Regions from separate parts of the Homo sapiens genome. Here regions 1, 2, 4, 5, 6 and 7 are each linked to region 3. The links come from fine-mapping of genetic effects on gene expression. A gene starts in region 3. Each other region holds a variant in brackets. All regions are shown on one strand. Distances are between the middles of the regions.

Region 1 (4,295 bases), 20 kb before region 3:
TCTGAAGGGCAGGGTGTGAGCCTGCTGTGGGACTGCCCCCTCCTAGGGCTGGGCCTGCTGACTCCAGGGTCTGCTTCCCCCACCTCTGCACTCCCTCTGCTGCAGGCCTGAGCTCTCCTTGCCCCTGGCTCTCTTCTGCAGAGGGCCTGCTCTCAGCTGCCACAAGAGGGCGCCGGAGAACGGACCTGAGCAGAGAGGCAGGGGCTCCTCTGCAGGTCCTCCCAGGCACCAACCCTTCTGGGAGGGAGGAAGGCTTGGGAGTCCTCTTAGACAGATCCTCAGTCACTTCCCTCTGCTTGTGTCTCAGGAAGACCACCTCCTCCTACTGTCTTCTGTGCTAGGGATCACTTCCTTGTTGAGTGGAACCTGAGTTTTAAGAGGATCTTCTGCTCCTCTTCATCTGGTCCCTTTCCTTCCAAGGCCCCAGAGAGGAAGGCATGCAGTGGGCCCTAGCGGTGCTTCTAGCTTTCCTGTCTCCTGGTGAGTGCGCTGCCTACAGAGAGGATCACGGGTTTTGTTTTATTTTCTTCTTTTGCAAGGAGTACCATACTAAGGAATTCCTCATTATATTTTGTGTTGTTCCCATTGCAGCCAGTCAGAAATCTTCCAACTTGGAAGGGAGAACGAAGTCAGTCATCAGGCAGACTGGGTCATCTGCTGAAATCACTTGTGATCTTGCTGAAGGAAGTAACGGCTACATCCACTGGTACCTACACCAGGAGGGGAAGGCCCCACAGCGTCTTCAGTACTATGACTCCTACAACTCCAAGGTTGTGTTGGAATCAGGAGTCAGTCCAGGGAAGTATTATACTTACGCAAGCACAAGGAACAACTTGAGATTGATACTGCGAAATCTAATTGAAAATGACTTTGGGGTCTATTACTGTGCCACCTGGGACGGGCACAGTGATTCAGATCCGCCCTACACCACACTGAAAATCTGCCTTGTGGCTGCTTCTGGTACACAAGATAGAGCCGCCCCCTCTCATTTCCTGCCACCAAATTTACCGTGTGCTGAACAAGAGAAACATTGCTTAACTCCTGATCTCCCCTGCAATATTACACTCCCCTGGCAGCAGCTGCACCCTGTTCCCCACCCTCCCCCAGGACTTTCCTGAAGACCAAGCCGCCATCTCAGCTAAGCCTCAGAGAAGCAGCCTGGCTGAGAGCAAGGTTCTCTTAGCTCTCCTAGGACATGGGGGAGGCCCACTCACTCTGCTTCCTAGGACAAATGGGTACCCCTAGGGTCCAGCTGTAAAGCAAGATATTTTGGACAACAAATGGGAAGGGAATTTATACTAAATTGTGTATCCCATCATGATCCAGAAACCGCAGCTGAGACTGGTGCTTATTCCTTATGTCTATAACAATATAAGCAATACTATAATGACCACTGAAACACCAGGCCTAGGTATGCAGTTGAACATTCTCTCCCTCTGCCCTCCCTTTTATTCTCTCTCTCTTTTTTCTTAATTCTTTGCTTGCTTTTATTATTTTTCTCTCTCCCTTCCTCCCTCGCTCCATCGCTCCCTCCGTCCTTCCCTCCCTCTCTCCCTCTCTCCTTCCCTCCCTTCCTCTCTTCTTTCCTTCCATCCATTCTCCTTCGTTTTCCTTCCTTCCTTCTTTGCTTTTCTCTTGCTTTCCTTTTTGGGTACATAATCAGAATACTTTTTCCACAAAATCATTTGAAATAATTTTTCTCTATGTGTTCATGTCAACATTGATATAGCTACTTTAATTGTTCAGTTTTCTTTTTTACATTTTGGAAATTTGTTGTATTACTTTGTTTTGTTTCATATCTGTTTTGTATATATAAAACATTTACATGGAAGTGAAGTCAAAATTATAAAAGATGATGCATTTGAAGATTTTAGCTTCCATTGTAGACTTCTCATTCTTCTTTTCTCCCTGACACTATAGGTAACAATATTTTTGGCAGTTCACTTGAGTTTTTTCACTGTTTGTCATAGCGGAGTATGTATTGTTTCTATTTCAATGCCATATTTATATTTTCTTTCTGATATTCAGTTTCTATATATTTTAATCAATCTTATATTTTCCTGTGTCTGGACTGTGTGTCTTACTTCTAAAGGTGCACATACTTCATAAGTATGCATAAAGACGTCCATATCATTTATTTGAATGTTTTTATGCATTCATTATTTAATGATGGCATCATTGATCTATCAGGAATTTTTATACAATAATTACTGTATTAGTAATAATAATACTGGCCAGGCCCGGTGGTTCATGCCTGTAATCCCAGCATTTGGGCAGTCCAGTCGTTAGGATCACTTAGGCC[G/A]GGAGATTGCGACCAGCTTAGCCAACATGGTGAAACCCTGTCTCTACTAAAAATACAAAAAATTAGCTGGCTATAGTGGCGCACACATGTAATCCCAGCTACTTGAATGCTGAAGCAGGAGAATCTGTAGAGCCTGGTAGGTGGAGTTTTCAGTGAGCTAATATCACACTACTGCAGTCCAGTTTGGGCAACAGAGTGAGACTCTGTCTCAAAAAAATGAATAACGATAATAATAATATTGATGCTACATATGGGTACTGACATTCTGGTAGTTAATGTACTAAGCACATTACATGCATATTTTATTTAATCTACACAGAAATTTCATTAGGGTTTAAAGTACTGTTGAATGTAACATTAGAAATTGAGGGGGTTAATTAACATTCCCTGAGTCATATACTTTAACTTGATAATGATTGCAATCCAAGCTCTGTGATTCTGAAAACGAGATTTGTAAATTCAGTTTGCATTCCCTCATCTTTGGGAGTACTAACATTATTTCACAACTTTATAGGTCATTTATAGTTCTTCTTTTGTGAATTGCCTTGTCATACTCTTTGCCTATTCCTCTCTTGGAGGATTAATTTTTTCTTATTAGTTTGTAAGAGTTAATATACACTATTTTAAAGATACTGACCCTTTATCCAATGTGTTGAAGATATTTCTCCTCATTTGTTGTTATTTACATTTGGCATCTTTTGGTGAATTGAACTTTGAAAAAAAAAGCATTAAAATCTATCAGTTTTTCTAGGGTGTCTAGTTTGATGTCAAGCTTAGAAAGGCCAATCTCACCTAGAATTTCTATGCAATTCATCATTGTTTAAGTGTAATGATTTTGTTTTTATTACAACTAAATCACTATCTATATCTGGTAAGAACGAAATGCAATAATATTTGTTTCCATATGGTAAGTCAATACCCAAAACAGAACTTATAAAATAATTGACTATTTCCTTGTGGGTATTAACATATCACTTTATCACATGATAAAATATTACATACGTGTGGCTCTCTTTCTGGATTTTCCACTGTGTTCCATGAATCTTCTCATTCTAGTGCCAGTATTGCCCTCTCTTCAGCACTGTAGCTTTATACTTCTTTTCACATTTTGATGAAGTTTCTCTCATTATTTTTTTGTTTTAAGAATTTTCTGTGCATTCTAGTGTGATCTCAATCCTCTCCCTTCCCATTTTTAAACCATGAGACTTCTGTCCTGCAAGACTTTTTCACGCTCCAAGGCAGGCAAGCTTCCCTCCTTCACAAGGACCCGAGAACTCAGCTTTCAGAGCTGCTCCTACAGCAGCCTCATGTCCTGCATGTGTGCTCCAGAGGCAGAGGGAGACCAACCAGAGCCCCCTCCCTTTCTCATTCCCAGCTGTGATGACAGCAGAAACTGAACTCTCTGAGCTAGCCCAACACAACAACTGAGAGGGACACTGTTCTCCATCTCATTATGCATATTTCAAACATGTGTCTCTATATACTTCTTACAGAGGTGGTGATAATCTGTGAATGCCTTACTGAATTTTCACAATAATATTACTGTACTTGATTTGTCCCCTTATTTTCATCTGTGAAGCCAGGTGCACTGCAGATATTAGTCTGCTTTCTGAGGGTAGGGATGACAAATAAAATATACAATACCGGGGGAATTGGAAGTTCAGATAAATAACAAGTTTTTAGTTTAAGTATGTTCCAAATATTGCATGACATGGCACCCAGTTCTACTTTAAAAACAAACAAGCAAACAAACAAATTCACACTCCTACTTTAATGAACAAAAATCTTCTAATAAGGAGGTCACACACACAGGATTACAGGCACAACCCCCACACACAAACACACACACACATTTACCTTAGAGCAGAGTCCAGGACACACCAACACACATGATCCTCAGTCCTTTTAATTTAAAGCACGTTCAACCCTTCTCAGAGTGGCCTTGAGTGGTTGCCTCCATGAGTCTGCAGATGCGAAAAGGAAGTTGGTTCCG
Region 2 (4,605 bases), 34 kb after region 3:
TCACTGGGAAGGCTTCATAGAGCCAGAAGATTCAAGTAAAAGTCTTGCCAAACAAGAAAAGGAGAAAGTTCATTTTTGTCACAGTCTGGTTGCAACAGTAAAAACTAGCTTTTGTCATCATCACATTTTCTAATATCGAAAGGACATATTTTAGGAAAAAGCATCCCAAATTTATAGGTATGTTGTTATTTATAGAACTTCATTTTTTTAAATCAAACTCTTCAGTGAATTAATTTTTACCACCTCCTCAGGTACAGGATAAATGGGACATTTGCAGCCAGTTTCCTCCTTGCCCATGTTTGCTGCGAGGTGGGGCGTGGATGTGGGGAACCTCTCTGGGGGAAGAGGATGGGTGCAGCAGCCCGACGACTGGTCGTGAGGCCCCACCACAAAAAGCCTCCACTTAAAGGGCAATGCTGAGAGCCCCACCACACCTCATGATGGGGAATTCCTCTGTCTAGAGATGTTATTTATTGTCATTCAAGTCAAGGAACTAAAATCCTAAGAAAAAGAGCATACCCCAAAGCCAAACTAGGCCTCCTAACAGTAGCTCTGTGCTCATCCTGCTTCAACAAGGAGGCAGAGTAGAGAGGAAGGAGGTGAAAGATATGGAACCCACTGAGCTCCCACTTTATTCCAGGCGTATTATGCACCTATCTAAGCCAATGCTGGTAGATAGGGATTTCAATTTCATTTTCATAGTTGAGGGCACTGGGTGTCAGATAGCAACAAGTCAAGCTAACAGCAGGCTGAACTGGAATTAAAAGCAGGACTGAATGATTGCATGCTCGCCTGTATAGCACACTACGTGGATTTGCTTGGCATTGAAGAAATAGGTTTTAGTTCCAGCTCTACCATTTACTAGCTGAGAGGCCTTACATTACCCCCTCTTCCCCATGGGGAATCCCTTCCTGCCTCAAAATATTGTTTGGATTAAATAAGCCAATGTTTGTAAAAGAGTTTTGGAAATTGTAGACACCATAACAAAGTAAAGAGTTATAGTTTTTTTTAAACACATTTTCATTCATTCTAATATGATTTCTCATATGAATTATCTCCTAAGGATAGTCAATATTTATGGAGCTCCCACTATAGGGAAGGCATCCTTCTTGATGAAATAAGGGGCTTTAACAATCCCTACAACTTATGACTTTGACTTAACAAAAACGAAATCTAGCATGTGTTATATGAAAGTAGCAGGTAACAAGTGGTCTAGCAAAGCTGCAGTGCTATATGCTGAGTGATAGAGGTATTTGTTGTAACATCCACTCCAATTCCTCAAGAAAATAGATGGTGGCAAAGAAGATTAAGTGATATTGCTCATTAAATGATGAGAATTTTTACATACTGGATATTCAGTGGGAGTTTCATTTTGTCCCAATCTCCGCTGACACTCTAAGCTCAGGAGAATGGTAGTAATACAAAAGAAGGGGACAAAACCAGAGATTCACAGTGGAGGGCAAGCCCCTCTCCAGCAGACATTGGTAATGTCTGAGACATTTTTTACTGTCACAAACAGAGTGAGAATGCTACTGGTATCTAGTGAGTAGAGGCCAGAAGTGTTACTAAACATCCTACAATGCACAGGACAGCCCCACAACAAAGAATTATCCAGCCCAAAATGTCAATAATGCAGAGGCTGAGAAACCCTGGGGTAGTTGGCCATATTTCTCAAAGACTTGCTAAGAGGTAGACAAAACTGATGACTCCAACCTTTGGCTCATGAGCTATATCCAGGCTAATTACAGTAAGAGCTTTCCTGGGGACTCTAATTTTGCAAAGACTTTCTCTGAAAAGCACTGTTGGGATTTCCCTGGAAACCCCCTCCTCTCCCAGTGAGGAGGTGATGAGGTAGCTCTTCTACTTCCACACCAAATAGGACTCTCAGGTCCTACATCCACCATGGGTCCAGAGCAGAGCCCTGTGTGTGGGTCATGGAAGTGTTGGGTCTGTGCCGTGAGCGTTTGGTGGCCAGATAAACCAGTGAGGACTCTCACCTGGAAAAGTGGACAGGTGGCTTCAGGTCATAGCCCACGTGGTAACTTGGACCAACTCTCCCCTGAAATCAGTTAGATAATCATGATGAAATAATAATAATGAAAAAGAATCTTTCTAAAAGTTTCTAAGAGTTAGCAAGATAACAAGGTGAATAACTTTTACCCTGGCAAATGGACTGATTATCATGGTGTCATACAGCTATGGGTAAAGTTCCCATGTGATCCTGAC[C/T]AATCAGCAACCTCAGAAATGACTGATCTGGGCGCAGGGCCTAAGGACACCCATTTTCTCTGTGAACACTCTTTGAGGTTCCCCTTCCTCATCCTGGTGCAGCTTCTCCTGCTCCAGGTTCCCTATTTCCTCAGCCTTGTCTCAGGCACTCAGCCTGAGCAGACGGGACGTCACAGCTACAGATATGCACCTGTTCTTCACTCTGGGAATGTGAACTTGTTCTCCTACTTCTCAGATTGGCTGAGGGATTTTTTTGAAAATGAATGTCTCATTTCTTGATAACTTTGGTTTCATTGAAAATGCTATTTTGTTTCTAATTGAAATTGGGTAAAAACAATTGAAGCAAGTAAAAATCTTTATTTCATTAGCAGAAATGAAGCATATATTTTCACTGTAGGGTATTTAGATAGAACTTTTCATACACACTCAGGTACTGACCAACACCAAATCAGGCTTTTGAGGATTTGATATTTACTTGGAAAAAAACCCTGTTCCAGGTCAATTACAGGCAAAGAGCTGCAACCATATATAAAATTCTGTATATAAATTCTCTATATAAAATTCTGTCTACTTCCCTTTAGTTCTTAATATAAAATTCCTAGAAAAATAGAAAGACATGATGACCCAATATAATGGCCCCCAGGAAACTAGCATGACATTGGAGCTGAGGTAATGGGCACTTGCCCCATTATCATGTCTGCGACCACATCCTTCCCAATGTGGAAGAGCCTCGTCCAGCCCTCTGCCCCAGCTAGGCCTCAGCCTCAGCTTGCAGCACTTCCTGTGTTCCTCAGATGATGCCTCTGTGATCACAGGAAACCAGAAAGGGAGTCTGATGACTATCAATTTCACCCCACAAATGCCAGTACCTATACCCCCAAGTGTCTGATTTGACATCATTTCCTATTGACTTAGGTTCCTATTTAGAGACTATGTTTGTTGAAACTGCATGATTATTTCAGAGAGAAAGCAAGGTCCATTATATCATTTCTTAGAAACTTCTAGTCATGGTGAATTGCTCAGGGTGAAGATGCCAGCAAGGAACAAGATGGAATTCATATCCACTCAGTTCCCACTGGCTGCCAGAAAATGGGATAGATGTTCTACATATTCAGAATTTCAGGTGATTGTCATAAGAACCTGGTAAATAAACTTATTCATGAAAGAAATAACTGATGTTTAGACAGGGGCAGTTATCTGTCCAAACAAATAGTTCATGCTCTTTCAAGTGCACTATTGGGCCACTTTGAATACCCTTTGGGTTTATTAACTTAATGGAAATAGGGCCAGGGGCAGTGGCTCAGGCTTATAATTCCAGCGCTTTCAGAGGCTGAGGCAGGCAGATCATTTGTCCTCAGGAATTCAAGACCAGCCTGGGCAACATGGTGAAACTCCATCTCTACAAAAACACAAAAATTAACCAGGTGTGGTGGAGCTTGCCTGTAGTCTCAGCTATTCCGGAAGCTGAGGTGGGAGGATCACTTGAGCCCAGGAGGCAGAGGTTGCAGAGAGACAAGATTGCAGCACTGCACTCCAGCCTGGGATACAGAGCAAGACTCTGTCTCAAAAACAAACAAACAAAACTTTATAGGAATGAACTGTGGCATTTGTGGGTAATTATGCGCTGGCCCGGACTTACTGCCTAGTCCTGCAGAGCTAGGTCAAGACAGAATGGGCAGTGACTCAAGACAGAATGGGCAGTGACTCAAGAAGCCATGGCTAAAGGGTCATGCTGAACACACATTTGGAAGAGTTCCCACCCCCCACCCCACCCCCACCCTGCTCCCCACCGGCATTCTGCCTTAGGACCCTTCTTCTCACTGGAGGGGAAAAGGCTAAGAAAACAGAAAACCCTCTCTGTTCTTGTGAACTTGCTTTAGCAGATAATATCATGGGTGGGATACCTGGAGAGGGATCAAAACCTCACAGCCCAGACTTAAGTAAATGATCAAAATGTGTAATGAGGATCATGTTTTGGAAATGTGGCCAACATATTTTTATTCTCTAAAATAAATCATGTCACCTTTTGTCCTTTCTTTATTGTAGCTAATCCATGATATTTACTACCCATAGAAAGAGATGGTAGTTGCCCAGAACAAACTCACTTTTTTTTTTTTTTTTTTTTTTTTTTGAGATGAAGTGTTACTCTGTCGCCCAGGCTAGAGTGCAGCGCACAGGCGCCCGCCACCACGCCTGGCTAATTTTTTTTTGTTTGTTTGTTTTTAGCAGAGACGGGGTTTCACCGTGTTAGCCAGGATGGTCTCAATCTCCTGACCTCGTGATACGCCCGCCTCAGCCTCCTAAAGTGCTGGGATTACAGGCGTAAGCCACCACAGCCTGCCACAAACTCACTTTTTGAATTAATTGTGAGATGTTGGG
Region 3 (4,605 bases):
ATTTTCCTGTGTCTGGATTGTGTGTCTTACTTCTAAAGGTGCACATACTTCATAAGTATGCATAAAGACGTCCATATCATTTATTTGAATGTTTTTATGTGTTGATTATTTAATGATGGCATCATTGATCCATCAGGAATTTTTATACAATAATTACTGTATTAATAACAATAATACTGGCCACGCCCGGTGGCTCATGCATGTAATCCCAGCATTTGGCCAGTCCAGTCATTAGGATCACTTAGGCCGGGAGATTTGGACCCGCTCAGCCAACATGGTGAAACCCTGTCTCTACTAAATATACAAAAAATTAGCCGGCTGTTGTGGCGCACACATGTAATCCCAGCTACTTTGGATGCTGAGGCAGGAGAATTTCTAGAGCCAGGAAGGTGAAGGTTTCAGTGAGCTAATATCACACTACTACAGTCCAGTTTGGGCAATAGAGTGAGACTCTGTCTCAAAAAAATGAATAATGATAATAATAATATTGATGGTACATATGGGTGCTGACATTCTGGTAGTTAATGTACTAAGCACATTGCATGCACATTTTATTTAATCTACACAGAAACTTCATTAAGGGTTTAAAGTACCGTTGAATGTAACATAAGAAATTGGGGGGTTAATTAACATTCCCTAAGTCATATACTTTAATTTAATAATGATGGCAATCCAAGCTCTGTGGTTCTGAAAATGAGATTTGTTAATTTGATTTGCATTCCCCCATCTTTAGGAGTACTAGCAATATTTGACAACGTTATAGGTCATTTATAGTTCTTCTTTTGAGAATCGCCTTGTGATACTCTTTGCCTATTCTCCTTTTGGAGGATTAATTTTTTCTTATTGGTTCGTAAGAATTAATATATACTATTTTAGAGATACTGACCCTTTATCCAATGTGTTGAAGATATTACTCCTCATGTGTTATTATTTACATTTGGCACCTATGGTGAATTGAACTTTGAAAAATAAAATAATATCTGTCCATTTTTCTAGGGTGTCTAGTTTGATGCCAGGCTTAGAAAGGCCAATCTCACCTAGAACTTCTATGCAATTCATCATCGTTTAAGTCTAATGATTTTCATTTTATTACAACTAAATCACTATTTGTAACTAGTAAGGTAGAAATGCAACAATATTTGTTTCCATACAGTAAGTCAATACCAAAAAGAGAACTTATTAAATAATTGACTATTTCCTTGTGAATATTAATATATCACTTTATCACATGATAAAATATTACATACATGCAGCTCTCTTACTGCATTTTCCACTGTGTTCCATGAATCTTCTCATTCTAGTGCCAGTATTGCCCTCTCTTCAGCACTGTAGCTTTATAGTTCTTTTCACATTCTGATGAAGTTTCTCTCATTTTTTTGTTTTAAGAATTTTCTGTGCATTCTAGTGTGATCTCAATCCTCTCCCTTCCCAGTTTTAAACCGTGAGACTTCTGTCCAGCAAGACTTTTTCACGCTCCAAGGCAGGCAAGCTTCCCTCCTTCACAGGGACCCGAGAACTCAGCTTTCAGAGCTGTTCCTGCGGAAGCCTCATGTCCTCCACGTGTGCTCCAGAGGCAGAGGGAGACCAACTGGAGCCCCTTCCCTTTCTCATTCCCAGCTGTGATGACAGCAGAAACTGCAAAATTTGAGCTAGGACAACACAACAACCAAGAGAGACATTGTTCTACATCTCATTATGCATATTTCAAACATGTGTCTCTATATACTTCTTACAGAGGTGGTGGTAATCTGTGCATGCCCTACTGAATTTTCACAATTATATTACTGTACTTGTTTTGTCCCCTTATTTCCATCTGTGAATCCAGGTGCACTGCAGATATTAGTCTGCTTTCTGAGGGTAGGGATGACAAATAAAATATACAATACCCAGGGAATTTGGAAGTTCAGATATATAACAAGTTTTTAGTTCAAGTATGTTCCAAATATTTCATGACATGGCACCCAGTACTACTTTAAAAACAAACAAGCAAACAAACAAACTTACACTCCTACTTTAATGAACAAAAATTGTCTAATAAAGAGATCACACCCACAGGATTACAGGCACCCCCCCCCCCGCCCCCCGCCACACACACACACATTTACCTTAGAGCAGAGTCCAAGGCCCACCAACACACATGATCCTCAGTCCTTTTAATAAAGAACATTCAACCCTCCTCAGAGTGGCCTTGGGCAGTTGCCTCCAAGTGTCCTTGCAGATGTGAAAAGGAAGTTGGTTCACAGCCCTAATCAGAGGCTTCCTGGCAGGACAAGGTCCTGGCATCAGCATTAGCTGCTGCAACTCTGAAGGGCAGGGTGTGAGCCTGCTGTGGGACTGCCCCCTCCTAGGGCTGGGCCTGCTGACTCCAGGGGTCAGCTTTCCCCATATCTGCACTCCCTCTGCTGGAGGCCTGAACTCTCCATGCCCCTGGCTCTCTTCTGCAGAGGGCCTGCTCTCAGCTGCCACAGAGGGTGCTGCAGAACTGGCCTGAGCAGAGAGGCAGGAGCTCCTCTGCAGGTCCTCCCAGGCACCACCCTTCTGGAAGGAAGGCGTGGGAGTCCCCTAAGACACATCCTCAGTCACTTCTCCCTGCTTGTGACTCAGGAAGACCAGCCTTCCCCACTGCCTTCTGTGCTAGGGATCACTTCCTTGTTGAGTGGGACCTGAGTTTTGAGAGGATCTTCTGCTCCTGTTCATCTGGGCCCTTTCTTTCAAGACCCCAGAGACGAAGGCATGTGGTGGGCCCTAGCCCTGCTTCTAGCTTTCCTGTCTCTTGGTAAGTGTGCTGCCTACAGAGAGGCTCACAGGTTGGGTTTTGTTTTGGATTTTTCTTCTTTAGCAAGGGACGCCATACTAAGGAATACCTCATTATATTTTATGTTGTTCCCATTGCAGCCAGTCAGATATCTACTAACTTGGAAGCGAAAATAAAGTCAGGCACCAGGCAGATGGGGTCATCTGCTGTAATCACCTGTGATCTTCCTGTAGAAAATGCCTTCTACATCCACTGGTACCTACGCCAGGAGGGGAAGGCCCCACAGCATCTTCTGTACTATGACATCTGCAACTCCAGGGATATGTTGGAATCAGGAGTCAGTCAGGAAAGCATGATACTTATGGAAGTAGAAGGATAAGCTGGAAATTTATACCTCCAAAACTAAATGAAAATGCCTCTGGGGTCTATTACTGTGCCACCTAGGACAGGCAGAGTGATTCAGACCTGCTCTACACCACACTGAATATCTGTCTTGTGGCTGCTTCTGGTACACAAGAGAGAGCCGTCCCCTCTCATTTCCTGCCCTGAATTTACTGTATTCTGTACAAAGAGAAACAGCTTAACTCCTGATCTCCCCCCTAATATTACACTCTCCTGTCAGCAGCTGTACCCTGTTCCCCACCCTCCCCCAGGACTTTCCTGAAGACTAAGCTGCCATCTCAGCTAAGCCTCAGCTAAGCAGCCTGGCTGAGAGCAAGGTTTTCTCAGCTCTCCTAGGACATGGGGGAGGCCCACTCACTCTGTTTCTTAGGGTCCAGCTGTGAAGCGAGATATTTTGGACAGCAAATGGGAAGGGTATTTATACTGAATCATGTATCCAATCATGGTCCAGAGATCGCAGCTGAGAGTGCTGCTTACTCCTTATGTCTATAACAATATAGGCAATATTATAAATACCACTAAAACACTAGGCCTAGATATGCAGTTAAACACTCTCTCCCTCTGCCCTCCCTTTTATTCTCTCTCCTTTCTTACTTCCTTGCTTGCTTTTATTATTTTTTCTTCCCTCCCTCCCTCCCTCCCTCTCTCCCTCCCTTCCTTCCTTCCTTTTTTCATTTCTTCCTTCCTTGCTTTTCTCTCTCTTTCTTTCCTTTTTGGGTACATAATCCGAATATTTTTTCAACAAAATCATTTGAAATAATTTTTCTTTACATGTTCATGCCAACATTGATATAGCTAGTTTATTTGTTCAGTTTTCATTTTAAAATTTTAGACATTTGTTGTATTATTTTGTTTTGTTTCATATTTGTTTTGCATATGTAAACTATTTACATGGAACTAAAGTCATAATTTTAACGAAGATGCATTTGGAGATTTTAACTTACATTCTAGATTTCTTTTTCTCTCTCTTTTTTTTTTTTTTTTTTTTTTGAGACGGATTCTCAGTCTGTCACTCAGGCTGGAGTGCAGTGGAGCAATCTCGGCTCACTGCAACCTCCGCCTCCTGGGTTCAAGAGATTCTCCTACCTCAGCCTCCCAAGTAGCTGGGATTTCAGGTGCCCGCCAGCACATCCAGCTAATTTTTGTATTTTTGGTAGAGACAGGGTTTCCTCATGTTGGCCTGGCTGGTCTCGAACTCCTGACCTCAGATGATCCCCCTGCCTCGGCCTCCCTAAGTGCTGGGATTACAGGCATGAGCAACCTCACCAGGCCCCATTCTGGATTTCTCTTTCCTCTTCTCTCCCTGACCCTATAGGTAACAATATTTTTATCAGTTCAGTTGAACTTTTTCACTTTTTCTTATTCAGAACAAGTCTTTCAGTATTACAGAAAAGTCTTTTGTTTGTCATAGTGCAGTATATATTGTTTCTATTTGACCGTCATATTTA
Region 4 (4,605 bases), 870 kb before region 3:
TTTTGTATTTAAACTTTTTTTATGTTTTAAAGAAAGTTGGTATTTTGTGAAGCCCTAGAGCATTCACTTATATTTTCTCCTTTTGGGGAAAAACTGAAACATATTTTGTATACCATAAAATTCCCCCTTTTTGTACAAATTTGACAAACACAAATAGTGAACCATCACCACGATCTAGACAGAGAACAGTTGCATCAGCCCCCAAATTCCCTTGTACTCCTTTAAATTCACCTGTCCCCCACTTCAGCAACCACTGATCTGCTTGTCATCCCTCTACTTTTGCCTTGTCCTGAATGTTACATTAATGAATTCATTCTTTCGTATGCCCTAATTTGCTATTTTAAACCGTCTCCAATTGGCCCATATATTCGTTACCCATTTTTACATTTATCATTTGAATTCTATGGTTAGAAATTGTTAATGTGTGTGTTCTGAAAAACCACATGAATAGACCATGTGATCTAATGGGTTCACCTAATAGAATTCTAGAATCTCAGTGTTGGAAAGAATCACCTAAGTCAAATACTTCTGTAGTGTATCGTTAATGCAATGACTGTTGGACACAGCGCCTTGTCATATAGTTTCCAATTTTGTGCTCCTCCTCTCTTCCTTTAGGGTTATTTATTTTCCTCCTCCACACCACTAGCAGCTGGCTTGACCAGGTGACTTGTCTGGCCAACAGCGTGTGAGTGGAAGTGATGTGAGCAGCTCTTGAGCTGAAGCTTTAAGAGCCACTGCAGTTCTGGCATTCCCTGCTCCCTTTGTAACGAAAAAAACATATCCCAGACAGGGGCTGCTTCTTCTGCCTGGATCCTAGAAGGTGAAGGATGTGCAGCAGAGTCACTGCACACCTATGACCCATATGTAATATGAAATCAACAAAGAAACACACCTTCCTGTTGGAGATTTTGAGATTTTGTGCTTAGCACTTAGGACTTCTCCCTGGGACACTCTTTCTTCAGATATTGGACAGCTTAATCCCTCTCATCCATTGGGTCTCTGTGCAGTGTAGAGACCACAACTTATGACCTTGCATAAAATGCATCACATCCCCATCCCTGCCACGCTTCCCCACCTCCATCTACTTCACTCCCCCAGTAGCGTATATGTGCATTAAGGAACTCTTTGTTTATTGCTATGTCCTAAGTCCAGATCACTACCTCTAATGCTTTGAAAGTTCAGTAAATATTCATTGAACAAATGAATAAATGTTGCCTTAATAGAAAAACAAAAATAAATAGGTCTGTTTCTTATCAAACTGGTGTGGTCTTTTACTGTCAGATAATTAAAACTATATAACTCGATATATAGTTCTGATTTGTCTTCTAGTTCCAAAACTTACTCTAGGTTTTTTCTTTTTCTATTAAAAAGATTTTGCTCTTTCTCGCTTCTTGTTTTTATTTATTTATTTATTTTTGAGATGGAGTCTCACTCTGTTGCCCAGGCTGGAGTCCAGTGGCGTGATCTCAGCTCACTGCAACTTCCGCCTCCCAAGTACAAGCGATTCTCATGCCTCAGCCTCCTGAATAGCTGGGACTATAGGTGCCCACCATGATGTCCTGCTAAATTTTGTATTTTTAGTAGAGATGGGGTTTTGCCATGTTGGCCAGGCTGGTCTTGAACTTGTGACCTCAGGTAATTGGCCTGCCTCAGCCTCCCAAAGTGCTGGGATTACAGGCATGAGCTACCACTTTCGGCCTCCTTCCTGCTTCTTACATTACAAGCTGCTTCAAATTCTTGAGATTACCCAGGCATAAGTAAGTAAATGCAAACATATATCCATGAAAAATTATAGCATAACTGCATTGTTTTTAAGTATGTTCATCTCTAACATTTCAGGCTCTATGATGGCCACGCTCACACACAGGCAAAGCATACAAGGTCCTCAGTGTTGCCTTCTTCCCGCTCCTGTAGTCTGATTTCTTGCCACCTTGGATTCCCAATTTTCATTGAACAGACAGAGCTATTGATAGAACCTGTAGACTCTAGTCTCCTCATGCCTTCTTCTCTACACTGAATGCTCTCTTTACTTCTCTTTACTGGACTCTTAGTCTTTAAAATTCACTCATTCACACTTGAGCACCTTTTACAAGTAAGCTAGGCACTTTCTCTGTTCTTGGGCCACTTTATTGAACCAAATAAAGATGCCTGTCACAGGGCTTCCATTCTAGGGGCAGAGTCAGACATAAATGATGCACATTAGCAATACATCATACACAGAGATTCTCCTCTACAGCAGCAGGCCCAA[G/A]CATCACAATGCTGCTGACCTTGCCCTCGATGGCTACAGTAGGCATCACCCAAAATGCTCAGAAAGGCCAAATAAAGAAAACCAAACACTTTTGAGATTTTGTAAAAGGTCCTAAGTGTTAGGGAAAAAGAAAATGCAGAAAGCGAGTAAGGGAGACAGGAGTGCTGGGGCAGGGGAGGAGGAGGAAGGAAGGCTTGATGCTTTCTGGGTGGGAACAGAGTGCTTCAGGCAGAGGGAACAGCCTGTGCAAAAGGCCCTGGGCTAGGAGTACGTGCAAAGAACACCAAGGAGGCCAGAATGCCCTCACATCAAGGCTGATTTAATTGAAAGAGAAGGGTGTAGGGAACAAGAAAGCAAAATAAATTAGATTCAAGATGTCTGTCTTGGAAAAAACTTTGGCACAGGGAACTGACTGGAAGCAGAAAGAAAAGAAGCATTCCCTTTTCTGAGGGACTGCATTTTCAAAGGAGCTACACATCCCTATCTGTTGGAAACATCAAGCAGCCCATTAGATCTCCAGCATCTATAAGCTATACAGGGACTGAGAAACTCCCCGAAGAAAGGTATATTCCTCAACTTCCTCATCAGATGTGGCCAAGGAAGATAACGGACAGGAAAGAATCTCCCAGGGGTGTGGCCAAGGGCCAAAGAGAACAGTGGCCAAAGGTGCTTCCCTAGAGACACCCAATCAAGGAACCTCCGTGATGTCTGCCCACTGGGATGTTGGAATGGTCATAGATAAACAAAATGTAGCATATTTTTATGATGAAACACTGCTTGGAAATTAACAGAAAGGAACTACTATACTGTTGTATACACGACAACATGGATGAACCTCAAAAACATTATGCCGAATGAGAAAAGCCAGACACAAAAGAATACATATAATATGAATCCATTTATGTGAAGTTCTAGAACAGGAAAAAAACAGATTACCTGGTTGGATGGAGGGGACTGACTGCAAAGGGACACAGAGGAATCTTTTAGAGATAATTAAATGTTTTCTGTATTGATGGAGCCTGCATGGGTGGATGCAATTATCAAAACTCATTTAACTAAGCAAGTAAGGTCCATGCATTTTCTTGTATGTAAAGGATACCTCAGTGAAAACAACAATCATACAAACAAAATGGAATATAATGTAACTTGCACATGAAATCCCTAATCCCCAAACTATTCCCAGGTACTTCAGCATCCACAGGCTTTAATTTGGGGAGTCAGAGAAAACCGGGGCAGGTTTCCTGCTAGAGTGAAGGGAAGAAAAACCATCCTTGGCCTTGATTTTTCAACTGGCCTTGAACCTAATTGCTTTTCCATGTTCAGGTTTAGCAGCACTCTTTAATGTATTTTTGGTCATTAATTTAAATGTTATGCTTGACTTAACTGGAATGTTCACACTTTGACATAAATCTCCTATGTAGCACATTTATATTCTCCATTCATGTTGCCTACAGTGATTAGTAGGTCATTCTGGCCTGTGCTGTGAGAACAAGTCACTAACCTGAACCATCTGTCCCAGAAGTAGACTCAGCTCTACCGTTCCATTAACCCTTTTGCTGCCTGTTGTCACTCACATCGAGGCTGTATATATCTTCATTTCCTGCCTATGTTTCAAAAAAGCAAAGGATCCAACACATTTGCATGAGCTCCATAAAGGGGATTTTATTTTGCTACATCAACTAACAACCTCTGTTTTTACCCTAGGACTGCACATCTTTAGTACAGCTATCTGTGTTCCAAAGTAATAGTAAAAGGGAAGACACTGACTTTTCAAGGAGCTTATGGAATATGTGACAGAGCAAGCTTAATTATCTTCTTTCTTTGGAGTTTATGGCTATTATTCGTCTTATTTCACAGGTGTGTGCTTGCTTACAGTCATCAGAGGCCAAAGCCCAATAAACATGGGATAAAGGACGCAGGGATGGAGAGACCCAGTGTAGCTGATGATGGATGGTACTTGGAAGGGGAAAGGGGCACTCAAGGCAAGGTACGAGAGGGCACAGAACTCACTTATTTCACATAGGGACACAGGGCTTTGAGGAGGAGGTCATTTCTAGATCTCATCTGAATGCTCTGAGTAGAGCATTTCTGAATCCCACCCAGAGCTTCCAAGGTCTTCGTTCAAAACACTCAGAACCTAAACCTCACCATTGGCATCTCCTGAGCTCAGAATTTGTTTCAGTCCTTGCTCATAAGAGGCCCTACTGGCTTTTACTGTTCCCAAGAGAAAGGCCAATGTCCAGCCTGCCTTACCTGCCACCCCTTCTGCTGATGAGAGAGGCTCAGCTTGTTTCTTAAGCTCGCTTGTCCATGTTCCATACCACATCATTCTGGCTTCCCACTTCCCACCCACATCA
Region 5 (4,000 bases), 47 kb before region 3:
TTTTAAATTTGATTTTACATTTAAAAATCAGCTCTTTTTCTTCTAAAGTGTAAAATGTTGTATCATTCTCTCTCTCTCTCTCTCTCTCTCTCTCTCTCTCTCTCTCTCTCTCTCTCTCTCTGTCTTTGTCTCTCTCCATTAGAAAGTAACTGCTACCTTGCTACCTCTTGTGGGGACAGGGGTGGCTATAATGGATTTATGAATAAATTAATTTGGAGGAAAAGCTAAACCTCTAGATAAGGGGTTGTTTCCTGCCAGGTTCCGTTTTAACTGGAGCACAAGCAGTCCAAGAAGCCTTGTGCCAAGCACGGCTGGAGCTTGCTGGGCCCATTCTGGCCTCCTCACTAACTGTAGAATAACCTAAGGCACCCCATATAGACCCTCTCTCTGGGTATCAGTTTTCCAATCAGAAAAATTAATTTAGGGATAACATAATCCATTTCCAGCTCTGACAGCTTGTGATTCTATGAATATGCTCAATGGCAAAATACACACTTTAAAAGCCAATGTTTACTCTCAGGGGTGGAGTTGAGGGAAAGGTGGGAAAAATAAAATCAGCCATGACAGTAGAGTGATTCAGACTGGGTGACAGACGCATAGGGGTTCATTATGTTATTTCTTCTGCTTTAAAATATTTTTCTATAATAAAATTTTAAGGAAATCTTTTTCAAAATGGGAAAGGAAAAGAAACTGGTTGCCATTGTATATAAGGTAGGATAGGGAAGGAAGGAAATATATTTACACAGAATTGATCACAGAGTTTTATTTAGTAGTAATTACTGTATAACCTGCAAGTGGTGGTTTTCCTTATTATTATTTGACAGAAGCTGGGGTTAGAGGAGCTTTAGACATTTTGGGTTCCAGTTAAACAACAAACAGTAATAAAGCATCAGCGATAATAAAATGCAAATCTCTAACAAAAATAAGATGAATTAAAATTTGATTAATATAGTGCTTTTCCCTGTTGTAGAGGGCATTGCATTACTATTAATAAATATACATATGAATGGCCTCATATCAGAGAATAGGACTTCCCTTCTGGCTTTAGAGGCCTTCTTCCTCCTTGGGATATGGCAAATATCTTCCTCTTTTCATCCAGGTTGGAGAGTGACTTGTAAGAGTGTCTGCTTGAAATCTGGCTGGGAAATTGATTTTTATGTATTCTTATCTTCTGCAGGTGGAAACACTGCATGATTTTGAGGCAGCAAATTCTGATGAACTTACCTTACAAAGGGGTGATGTGGTGCTGGTGGTCCCCTCAGATTCAGAAGCTGATCAGGTAAAAGAAAAGATAGGAAGATGCTTTGGGCTACGTTGATTTTTTTCTGAGGGTCTGTTGGACACAATCACTTCCTAAAGATGTTTCTATTTTCTGAGATGCTACAAGCCATCTGAAAAGGGCTTAAGGGCTTGTGACAGCATAGATCATTAACGAGGTTTCTAGGACACCCTTTTGGGATGCTGTTGCATTCTTTTTTTATATAATACAAACAGTTGACTGTTTCTTATCACGTAACCACTTTCTGGGAATGTTATCTCTGTAACACCTGTCTTCAGGAAATGCAGACACTATGAATGTGAACTAAAAGACCCCTTCAAAAGTGGTTGCCTCTGGGTGTGTGGATATTGATGAGGAAAGAACCTGGGGAACCCTCTGGAGTGATGGAAATGCTTTGTATCTTGAGAGGGATGTCTGCATGTATTTGTCAAAACTCATTGAACTATATATACCTAATCATCTCTGCATTACACAGTATTTAAGTTATACCTCAACTTAAAGAGATTCTTTAAAAATATCACTTCCTAAAAGAGTGGTCTGATGTAAGGTACTGAGAACTCCCATCTTGTTCTCATTCATAAAATATGTGAGCCCTTGAAATGGTATGCAGAGCAAGTAAATGCATCTGTAAACATATTTTTCTGGAGAGAAAAACTCTAACTTCCATACTATTCTCAAAGAGATTTATGAGCTCTCCCCTTAAAAAATAAATTCAAGCATCACTGCCTTTGAGGTTAAGACTTAATATGTTCAACATTTTGTTCTTTCTTTTGACAACACACTTACCAAGATACATCAGGTGTTGGGTCAAGCAGTCTCTACCACAATAAAATAGATTGGAAATTTATATAACAATAATCTGCTGGGCAGGGTGGCTCATGCCTGTAATCCCAGGACTTTGGGAGGCCAAGGCAGGAGGATCACTTGAGGCCAGGAGTTCCAGACCAGCCTGGTCAACATAGCAAGACCTCATCTCTACAAAAAATTTTTTTTTTAATTAGCTGGGTGCAGCAGTGTGCACCTGTAGTCCTAGCTACTCAAAAAGCTGACATGGGAGGATCACTTGAGCCCAGGAATTCAAGGCTGCAGTGAGCCATGATCACACCACTGCACTCCAGCCTG[G/C]GTAACAGAGCAAGACCCCGTCTCAAAAAACAAAAAATTAATAACAATAATATATCTTTAAAAGCCCCCAAAGATTTAAAAATTTTAAAATACACTTCTAAATAACCCATGGGTCAAATAAATCATAGTGTGAGTTAAAAAAAAATTTCATAATGATCATTAAATAGAAATTAAATAGAAAAATGCATAGAAGGAAGAAAATAATAAAAATAAATTCACAAATGAATGCAATAAAGGACTATAACAGATAAAATTGATAAAGCCGAAAGTAGGTTTTTGAGAGGATTAACAAAATTATTAAAACCTTAGAAATACTCAAGAAAGAAAAGTCACAAAGCATAAATTACCAATACAAAGAAAAGGTGTCAGCATCACACATCTCAAAGATATTAAAAATCCCATTTATAATGGGATTTTTGTCTGCATTAACCAGAAGTTATTTTGTAAAGAAATAAAAGGAAAAAAAGTTAGTCTTTTATGTTTACCACCATGTTTACCATTTCCAGGTCTTCATTCTTTCCTTAAGTCCGAGTTTCTATCTGGTCTTAATTTCCTTTCTGCTTAAAGAACTTCCTTTAGCTATTTCTGAAGTGCTAGTCTGCTGGCAGCAAATCTTCTTGGCTTCTGTATATCTGAAAATGTCTTTATTATTCTTAATTTTTAACAATACTTTCACTAAGGTAGAAATCTGAGTTGATTTTTTTTTCTTTCAACTCTTTAAACATGTTTCATTGTTTTCTGGTCTCTATTGTTTATAATTAGAAATCAGCTGTCATTTGTTTAATATTGCTTCTCTGTATGCAAAGTGACTTTCCCTGACTACTTTTAATAAATTTCGCTGTATCTTTGATTTTCATCAGTTTAAATATATTGTGCTTGGGTAGGTTTTTTTTTTTTATGGTCTTCATACTTGAAAATCACTGAGATCCTTAGACTTGTAACCTAATGTTTTTCACTACATTTGCTTTTTATCTTTAATTTTTTTCTGAATTATTCTCTTTGTTCTTTTTTTCTGGGTTTCTAATTATACTTAAGTTGGACTTCTTGATAGCTAAGATGCTGTTCTTTTTCTTTCACTATTTCTCTCTGGTAGTCAGGTTGGATAATTTCTATTGATCTGCCTTCAAGTGCTATGAGTGTTTCCTCTGCTACTTTGAGTTCGTAGTTAAATTTATCCAGTGACTTTTTCATCTCAGATATTAGATTCTTACAATTCTTCATTTCCATATTGTTATTTCATATGGGTTTCCATTTCTTGGCTGAGATTTCCCACTTATAGTCTTTCATTATTACTGTCTCTCAATTTATATACTTGAACAAATTTATAATAGCTGCCTTAAATTTCTTACTGCTAATTCCAACAGCTGGGCCATCTCAGGGCATATTTCTATTGTTTGCTTTTTAATCTTTTGGTCATATTTTCCTGTTTTTCCATGTCTAATAATTTTTTAATTGATACTAGACATAGTAGGTAGACCATACGTGGTAAAGAGTCTGACTCTGTTTTCTATATCTGAAAATTGCTTATTTTTGTTTTAGCAGACATATAAATTACTGGATAATTCCCTTGAATTGATGGGAGTTGGTTTTATACTTTGT
Region 6 (4,605 bases), 50 kb after region 3:
CTCAGCCCACATTCTATAGGGTTAAGTGGTATAGGAGTGTTTAATTGTATTCGGTCACTAAAAATAATGTGCACATAGACTCAAGACCTGCAGTATTGCTCATGATAATAAAGTAACCAAAATAAGAGAGTATAAAGCCAAATATGTAAATCCCACCGAAATATATACATATATCATATGTATAAATAATACCAAGCCATTCTATTTCTTTTTTAAAAATTTTTAACTTTTAAGTTCTGAGGTACATGTGCAGGATGTGCATGTTTGTTACATAGGTAAACGTGTGCTGTGTGGTTTGTTGCACCTATCAACCCATCACCTAGGTACTGAGCCCAGCATGCATTAGCTATTTTTCCTAATGCTATCCTTCCCCACACCCTGCCCGCCAATAGGCCCCAGTGTGTGTTGTTTCTCTCCCTGTGTCCATGTGTTCTCATCATTAAGCTCCCACTTATAAATGCGGACATGCAGTGTTTGGCTTTCTGTTCCTGCATTAGTTTGCTGAGGATAATGGCTTTCAGCTCATCCGTTTTCCTGTGAAGGACATGATCTCCTTCCATTTTATGGCTGCATAGTACTCCATGGTATATATGTACCATAATTTCTTTATCCAATCTATCATTGATGGGCATTTGGGTTAATACCATGTCTTTGCTACCGTGAATAGTGCTGCAATGAACAATACCAAGCTATTCTATTTCCAACCATAAATATGTTGAGAAAAATTCAAAGGAAAAGTAAATGATGGGTGCCTTTTGTTGTCAATTTTTATATCTCATTTTACTCAGATTTTCCTTAACGGATGACTGCTACTCACCTGAGTTCTTATGTTTACCAGCTCTGTGTTTTTGAATGAGTCACTCAAACTCTGTTTGCCGTTGTCCTCATTTGACACATGGAGATAATCATAAAACTTACTGCACAGGACTGTTGAGAGGATCAAGTAAAATAATATAAGAAAACATCTAGACAAGTAGCAAGTTGTAAATGGATATTAGATGCTTGTCAAGTTTCTTACTGCAGTTCTGAATTAACAGCTAATTACAGAAAGATAGTCATTGGGACAGAACACTGCAGGTTTATCTTCACATTTTCAAAGCCATATTTCTGCAATATGGTACTGCTGGGGAATGGGAGAGTGGGCAAGAGAACATCCCTGCCCCACCCCTAGAGGTACACATTCATACTAGGTATTTCTTTCCAGATAGTTAACCCACTTACCCGATCTGCCCAGCACTCATGGGATGCAGGAAACCCTGGAACTGCTCATAACTGTAGCAGCTCATGAAGAACCCTAAGGAACCACCTCATCTAGTACTTCTGAGAGACCTCAACAGCCCCGCCTTCTGCCACTGACTTGAGACCTCCAGTGAACAGGGTTACCTTCTCCCTGGGGAACCAGACTGGCAGAAAGCATGCCACTGGTAGTAGCTGTTATCTTCTTCTCCCTCTGGGTTTGTGAGTTGCCCCCTAATCATTTCAGTCTACAGAAGAGATTGAAGTCATTCTGTATTATTACCTCTTCACGTATCGTTGGCTTATGGGAATTTCTCTTCACTTGCAATTGCACTTGGGCAGTTGGAACAACCTGAAATATCTATTTCCAGACCAGCAAATAAGAGTGCCCACATATCTTGGAAGGCATCCATCCAAGGCTTTAGCAGTAAAATCATACACTGGTACTGGCAGAAACCAAACAAAGGCTTAGAATATTTATTACATGTCTTCTTGACAATCTCTGCTCAAGATTGCTCAGGTGGGAAGACTAAGAAACTTGAGGTAAGTAAAAATGCTCACACTTCCACTTCCACTTTGAAAATAAA[G/T]TTCTTAGAGAAAGAAGATGAGGTGGTGTACCACTGTGCCTGCTGGATTAGGCACCACAGTGTTAGAGTTGTCAAGATAACCTACACAGAAACTATCTCCGAGTCTGTGCCTGTCCACATCCTTCTCCATGTGGGCAACCACAGCGGTTTGCTCAGCTGGGTGCCCAGCCGGAGCCTGCCCTCCCTGCAGCTCTTCTGGAATGTTGCAGGAAGACATCTTAGATTCTGCTCCCTTGGTGTGCAGAATCACATTGGTGATTCATGGTGTCCAAACGGGAAAAGTTTTCTTGTTCCCTCTCAGGGCGTGCGATAAGGATGTGGCTCCCTTCTTGGTGCCCCTCTCCTCAAACCTCTAGGGGGAGCATGCACACGTGCAGGTTGTGGGGCTCCGACCCCACAGCAGTGTCTAGGGGTGAATGCTTATAACTCCTGAGGCCCCAGTGGGCCTGTGTTACAAGGTGTCCTTTTAGTTTGGCTGTCCATAGGTGACTTGCTTTAGCCAGCTCAATTAGACCCCCTGCCTTATTGCAAGGACGGAGGGCTTTCTGTATCCCTGGGTTTCTTGCCTTGGTGTACTGAAAGAATTGGATAACATGTGGGCTTGGAGAATGAGTGCAAGTTTTTTATTTTTGTTTTTGTTTTGAGACGGAGTCTCGCTTTGTCGCCTGGGCTGGAGTGCAGTGGCGCAATCTCGGCTCACGCAAGCTCCGCCTCCCGGGTTCACGCCATTCTCCTGGGCAGTCTCCCGAGTAGCTGGGACTACAGGCGCCCCCCACCATGCCTGGCTAATTTTTTGTATTTTTAGTAGAGACGGGGTTTCACCGTGTTAGCCAGGATTGTCTCGAACTCCTGACCTCGTGATCTGCCCACCTCGGCCTCCCAAAGTGCTGGGATTACAGGTGTGAGCCACCGCGCCTGGCCGAGTGCAAGGTTTTATTGAGTGGAAGTAGCTCTTAGCAGATGGGGGAGCCAGACGGGAGATGGAGTGGGAAGGTGGTTTTCCCCTGGAGTTGACTGCTCAGCGGCCAGGCTTTCCTCCAACCACCCCGCCAAACTCTGCTTTGTTCTGCCAGTCGATGGCCTGCAGCCCGCCAGTCTCGCCAAACTCTGCTTTGTTCTGCCAGTCGATGGCCTGCAGCCCGCCAGTCTCTGTAGGTGTGCTTTTCCACATTAGTGTTCCTCTCGATGTCCAGCCACTTGTGTGTGTGCCCACTAGGGTCTCAGGGGTTTTATAGGCACAAGATGGAGGCGTGGCGGGCCAGGGTGGTCTTGGGAAATGCAACATTTGGGCGTGGAGGCAGGAGTGCCTGTCCTCACCTAGGTCCGTGGGCACAGGCCTGGGAGTGGGGCCCTCGACAGGGACCACGTCCTTCCTTTCCCTGCACTTCCCTCCCCCAATCCCATATCAGTGTCAGCAATTAGGATCCAAATTAGGGACATTTTGACACTATTTCCTACAACATTAGGATATCTGGGAACTCTGAAAATACAGAGTGGGTGGCTTAGAGCAAAATTCATCTGTCTAGTAATTCGCTACGTAGAGATTTCTAGTAACTGGTTCAGAATGAAAGTAGGAAGCAGTATATATTTTACATAGATATTCCCTGCTGTTATCATTATTTTCCCATTTGGTTCATGAGCATTGGAGGTTTTCAAAGTTAGAGTGATCTGTCAAACATAGTAACTGTGTGCTTTTTATTCGCACCTGAGGCCATCCTGAAGAAATCTAGGGACAAGTAAGTAGATCTGTAAGTAAACAATCACCTGTTTGGGGTATATGAGAGATGAAAGTATAAATCCTGTGTCCTAGAGGAAGAGCATGCAGCTCACTTCACACTCAGGGCTCAGTGCTGGGACAAAACAAGCACTGTGCAGTGGAACCCAGCTCCTAGGCACAGTGGGGGATCTCAGGATGGGGGCTATGCTTTGGAGATCTTGTCTTTCAGGGTTCTGCAAAGAAAACTAAAAATCCTGAGTAAAATAGGATTAGATAGTTAAGAAGAAAGATAATACATGCTTCCTGCATCGGTAAAGGAAATAACCATAATAATACCCCTCAGAAATTAATAAATAAGAAATAATGATTGACAATTATTTTATGTTTATTCCATGATTAATCATTGGGTGGTTGGGAACTTTCAAAAAATAATGAAACAAAATATAAAACTGTAAAACTGTAAAAGTCCTCTCTCACTTCTTTGAAACTTTCAAACAACAAATTAATGATGAAAAATCCGGAGTTTCAAAGATTTTCTCCTATTTATACCTTTAGTACTATGGATATCTGACAGCATATTGCCATACATGCAGTCTACTTACAGTCCTTGAAGTAATTGCAACGTATTTTTTCTCCATTCTCCCTTCTGAGAATCAGCTTGTACCATCCTGATAGGATAAGAGGAGAAATGCTATTGAAAGCCCAATGAGGGAATACCAGGAGCCTCCATGGCAGGTCAGCCCCTTTCCAGGTGCAGACTCAGAATCTGGAGTCCCGCATCCTGTCCGCCATGATTCCTGACCATGGTGGTCCACAGGGAGAATGACCTGAGCGCCTGAGTGAGTCCTCAACAGACCTCACCTCTCACCTGATGCATACATAAAAGCAAAGGGAAGAAGATTGTTAAGGAAATACAGAGCCTGAGAACATGAACTTTTCAAGAAATAGGTGAATGAAAAGATGGAATTCAGCTTTTCACAATGTCAGTGTTAAGTATTTTACATGGATTATTTTATTTAATCCTCAAAAGAGCAGTGTAGAGTGACTGTAGTGGCCACACAAGGT
Region 7 (4,605 bases), 32 kb before region 3:
AAGGCACATTAGGTACAAGGATTATTGATAATAATCCTTGTAATTTTTAAGACCACAAAACATTGAAACATTGAAAATTATAAATAGATAACATCAAAGCATGGTGGGAATTCTATTTTGTATGCATGTTTAGACTAAGGATCTTTTCTTTTTTTCCAGACTGGGCCAGAACCAAGTACCTGTAAGAATCAGCACAGTTCAGCCTTTTGTATCAATTGCAGTTGTGTCCATGTATGTGTGTGTGCATTCTTGGGTACATGTGCACACACCTGCATGTTACCTACACAAACCTCCGTGTTCCCATCCTTCTTAGGTGGGATTTTTGAACACTGCATTTACACTGGCCTGAAATAAGTTTGTTAAAGTCATCGGCCTCATGTAGTGGCCAGGCTGGGCTGCAAAGCCATTGGCTATCCAAACATTCAGAAGACCTTTAGGAATCAATGTTTTTGTTAAGGAGTCTATATAGAATAGGCTTTTCCTAGAGCAATGTTGAGTCAAGAGGAAGCAAATAACATGCATTATTGTTGGATCAAAATAAAAACTAGAAGCTTCCATTTTTCATTTCACCACACCTATTCCTTCAATATCCAGTTTATCAATTCAATTCAGAATCACAATTAGAACTAGAAGAGACCAAAAACATCACCCACTCCTCTGATTTTGAGGCGGGGGAAATGACAGCCCTGCAAGAAGGAGTCTCTTGCCTAAAACTATCAAGCACATAAGGTGTGCAGTTGGAACCTGCCTTGCATTTGGGGACCTTTCCATTCGTTATACGAAGTCTTTGCCATTCGTTGGGGTCTAATATTGGGGTAATATAACATGTATGGTATACCTCGAATGGCCAGGAGGGGGTGCTACAGGTTTGTACAAATAACTAAATGCAGTCAAAACACTACTTCTTTTAAAGCATGAAGCTGGGAGTTGAAATCAAATCGGAAATATAACATTTTGTATCAAAATGCAGCAGCTTCATGAAGACAGAAATTAATCCCTGAATCATAAACAGCCAAGCAGTTCCCTTATGGTACAGGCTCTGGAGACTTGTCTGTTTGGTTCAAATTCTTGGTGTGCTGTTTATTAGCTAGGTGACCTCGAGGAGTTATTTAACCTCTCTGTAAGCTTCAATTTCATCTGAAAAATGGGGATAAGTAACACCTATTTTCTGCTTGCAAGAAAAGAATAAATATATACAATGTTTGACACTCAAAGGGTATTTGCTATCATTTAATGGATCAAGAATTTCTGCTATGACTTTAAAAATTAGTCTTTTAATAAAAGGCCATTAACTATTTACTTAACAGTGCTAGAGGAAATTCCTATGACTTTTTGAGGTCCACCATAATTAACTGAATGAATACTATTCAACAGTATCTTAGGTTGTTTTCTTACTGGCAGCTGAGAGTGACCCTTGAGTTTCTAAAATCTTTCTGAAATTTTCTTCATGGTCTCTTATACTTTATAACTTAAAAAGAAATATATATAATATATATACATATGATATATGTATATATGTTATATAATTTATATATATATATATACACACACACACGAATATAAATGGCCGGTAGCCAGGATTTTGGAATTTGTTAGACTTCAGTTGAAATCCAGGCTCCATTATTTATTCGTCAAATGACCTCGAAGAGTTTAACCTTTTTAAGATTCCAACTCTCTCATCTGTGAAATGTGGTTGATTATATCTCCTTTGGAGTATTATTGTAAGAATTAAACTGTGGTAAAGACTAGCTTAGATATCATTTAGTTTAGAAATGAACAAGGTGGCACAACCCCTGGCCCCAGGAGATGAATGGTGTATCCAGGGTAAAGGTTATAATTGCCAAGTACAGTGACTTTCCCAAGGACATACAACCTCTAAGTGGCAGTGCTTGGACTTTTATTCTGTCTTTTCCAAAGCAATACATTCTTGAAACTAAAAGTTCTCAGGCCAGACTCTCCAAAGTGTCCCTATTTGGCAGCTCCATCTTGAGAAGTAACCTCTCCCTTCCGCACACTCTTCGTGGGATTGCATTGTTGGCTGCTCATCCTGGGCTGAGGCCCATGACCGGACCATTCCCAGGGCACCAGGCAGCCACAGGGCCTGTAAGAAGAGCAGGCAGGAAGTGAAGCTTTGGCTGAGGTTTCTGGGACACACTTAACTTCCCTGGAAACGATGCCTGACACCGCCTGGCCACAGCACTGGCAGGAGATGCTGCTGTCTTCTGGGAACATGCAGCGGCCAGTGAGCAGCACAGGACACAGGAACGTAAACTGGGGACCCTTCATCCATCCACTCTGGCTTCGTATCTTCTCCATTGTCCACTCCTATTTTAGCCCGGGATGATCAGTGATGATGTGCATGAGTTACTCATTCCCATCTATGCCCCAGCCCAGACTGAGCATATACAAACCCTGTTCTTTGCAGAATTTTTCATTTTTCCTTTTAATTTTCTATGGAAAGAATATATGTTATATAATTCAGCCTTATTGACACCCTTATAATAGCCTTCTAAACTACACACCTGATCATTTATCCCATCCAAATATACATATATTTGATACAGGGTCTCACTCTGTTGCCCAGGCTGGAGTGC[G/A]GTGGCACGATCACAGCTCACTACAGACTTGACCTCCCAGACTCAAGGGATCCTCCCACCTCAGCCTCCCAAGTAGTTGGGACTACAGGCGTGTGCCATCACGTGCAGCTAAATTTTTGTATTTTTTGTGGAGACTGGGTTTCACCATGTTGCTCAGGCTGGTCTGGAACTCCTGGGCTTAACTGATCTGCCTGCCTCGGCCTCCCACAGTGCCGGGATTACAGGCATGAGCCACCGTGCCCAGCCTCATTGATACACATTAAATGCCTACTACGTTCCAGGCCTTGTGCTGTGTGCTCTTGATACTGAGGTGTGTGCCCCCTTAAGCTCATTGAAAACACTATTGACCTGCGTCACTGCGGTCACAAAGTGATACAGAGAGCCCAGACAACCATTTAGAGGTGAGGAAATTCTAATAATTCATGGTAAGCAGATTGTTTCCCATAGTGTTGCTAGGGAACATCTCACAGCAGACTGAAATAGAAATACAAGCAATTGTCTGCGCACTAGAACTTTCTCCCCAAGGCAGTGCTATTTTTTTAAACAATTCTTCTATCATCATCATCATAATGCTGACCTCTTGATATGTAAAGGTACAATTACGAGGAGAAGCAGAAGAACATTTACATCTGTGAGTTTGCACCTCTCTCCCACCATAGTGAGCAGATCACACCCTCAGGACCCCAGAAGACTGGCAAGGAGGACTTGATAGAGACAAAAGGAGAGACACAAGAGGGGACAGAGTGTTCATATGAAGAGGGAGAGGGCATGATATAGAGACAGTGACGGCAACAGAAAGTAGAAAGTTGAAGAGGGACAGAGAGCAGAGTGGAAGTGAGAAGGAAAGAAAATGACTAGGACAGTGGCCATACAAGCAAAAAGAGCAAGAGACAGAGACACGTGGAGAGGTATAGTTCTCTATCATGGCGGGGGAGAGAGAGAGAAAACAGAGAAAGAAATACAAAACACAGAGAGAGGGTGAGAGACAAAGGGACAGAGAGACAGCGAGAGAGGGAGGGAAGATGGAGAGAGAGAAAACAACAGAGAAGAGAGAGAAACTGTGATATAAATATAGCGACAGGGACAGGGACAGTGATGGAGAGAGACAGAGAAATAGGGAAAGATACAAGAAGAGAGAACTGGAGTTAGGGGGAGAGATAGGGAGAGAGAGAGAACGATAGACCTGTGGAGACAGAAGCATACACGTGGACACACAGAGTGCGGCAGTGTTAGGAAGATAGAGATAAATATACAGAAATAATGGTAAATATTGAGATAGAAAAATATATATAAAGAGAAAAAACAAAGAAATATGCATATTTATATATTGTAAAAATATACATAAATGTATTTATACATGTATAATATGTTATATATAAAATATTATATATATTTCTATACAAAAAATTAGCCGGGTGTGGTGGCGGGCACCTGTAATCCCTGCTACTCGGGAGGCTGAGGTAGGAGAATGGCATGAACCAGGGAGGTGGAGCTTGCAGTGAGCCAAGATCGCGTCACTGCACTCCAGCCTGGGCGACAGAGCGAGATTCCGTCTCAAAAAAAAAAAATTATATGTATTTCTAGCTTTCCTTTTCTCTTCATATATTCTATCTGTCTGTCTGTCTATCCATACTATTGCCACAATAACGCCATGTAGCAAATATCCCAAACTCAGTGGCTTAGCACAATAATCATCTACAAATTCTTACAAATGCGTAGGTTTGCTAGACTGTTCTGCTGATCTAAACCAAGCTCATCTGATCTTGGCTGGGCTTGGCCACATGTCAGGCAGCTGCTGGGTTAGCTGGGAGGGGGACTGCCTGGTCAAAGTGCCTGGGTCTGAATAAATCAGCTCCACTACACACAGGGTTTCATCCTCCAACAGGCTAGCCTGGATTTGTTCTAATGACAATGACAGAAAGCAAAGAGCTAGCAGAAGCACATCAGGCCACTTGAAGCCTCAATTCAGAACTGGAGCCCTATGAGTTCTTCTTGTATTTAAAAAAAAAAA

Evidence for each region.
Region 1: its variant is fine-mapped to the expression of TRG-AS1 in whole blood (INTERVAL, PIP above 0.99).
Region 2: its variant is fine-mapped to the expression of TRG-AS1 in monocytes after R848 (Quach 2016, PIP 0.95). The same link has a PIP of 0.9 or more in monocytes after Pam3CSK4.
Region 4: its variant is fine-mapped to the expression of TRG-AS1 in whole blood (TOPMed, PIP above 0.99).
Region 5: its variant is fine-mapped to the expression of TRG-AS1 in whole blood (TOPMed, PIP above 0.99).
Region 6: its variant is fine-mapped to the expression of TRG-AS1 in whole blood (TOPMed, PIP 0.97).
Region 7: its variant is fine-mapped to the expression of TRG-AS1 in T cells (TOPMed, PIP above 0.99).

Annotation. Positions count from the first base shown.
Region 1 is chr7:38,359,471-38,363,765 of GRCh38, reverse strand. The region is part of intron 3 of TRG-AS1 (T cell receptor gamma locus antisense RNA 1); the gene reads right to left. It also overlaps TRG and TRGV2. Among named protein-coding and RNA genes, the nearest start is that of TRG-AS1, 20 kb to the right of the region's middle. RefSeq lists enhancers at 280-379, 763-812. The variant G/A (reference allele first, on the strand shown) is at 2,303.
Region 2 is chr7:38,305,532-38,310,136 of GRCh38, reverse strand. It overlaps TRG. Among named protein-coding and RNA genes, the nearest start is that of TRG-AS1, 34 kb to the left of the region's middle. The variant C/T (reference allele first, on the strand shown) is at 2,227.
Region 3 is chr7:38,339,300-38,343,904 of GRCh38, reverse strand. It overlaps TRG-AS1 (T cell receptor gamma locus antisense RNA 1), which reads right to left and starts at 2,484. Exons shown (of 4, transcript NR_040085.2): 1 at 2,106-2,484. It also overlaps TRG and the pseudogene TRGV6.
Region 4 is chr7:39,212,157-39,216,761 of GRCh38, reverse strand. The region is part of intron 4 of POU6F2 (POU class 6 homeobox 2); the gene reads right to left. Among named protein-coding and RNA genes, the nearest start is that of SNORA20B, 110 kb to the left of the region's middle. The variant G/A (reference allele first, on the strand shown) is at 2,249.
Region 5 is chr7:38,387,083-38,391,082 of GRCh38, reverse strand. AMPH (amphiphysin) reads left to right here. Exons shown (of 21, transcript NM_001635.4): 20 at 1,178-1,279. Among named protein-coding and RNA genes, the nearest start is that of TRG-AS1, 48 kb to the right of the region's middle. The variant G/C (reference allele first, on the strand shown) is at 2,402.
Region 6 is chr7:38,288,889-38,293,493 of GRCh38, reverse strand. It overlaps TRG and the pseudogene TRGV11. Among named protein-coding and RNA genes, the nearest start is that of TARP, 18 kb to the right of the region's middle. The variant G/T (reference allele first, on the strand shown) is at 1,824.
Region 7 is chr7:38,370,861-38,375,465 of GRCh38, reverse strand. All of the region lies in intron 3 of TRG-AS1 (T cell receptor gamma locus antisense RNA 1), which reads right to left. Among named protein-coding and RNA genes, the nearest start is that of TRG-AS1, 32 kb to the right of the region's middle. RefSeq lists a silencer at 684-978. The variant G/A (reference allele first, on the strand shown) is at 2,595.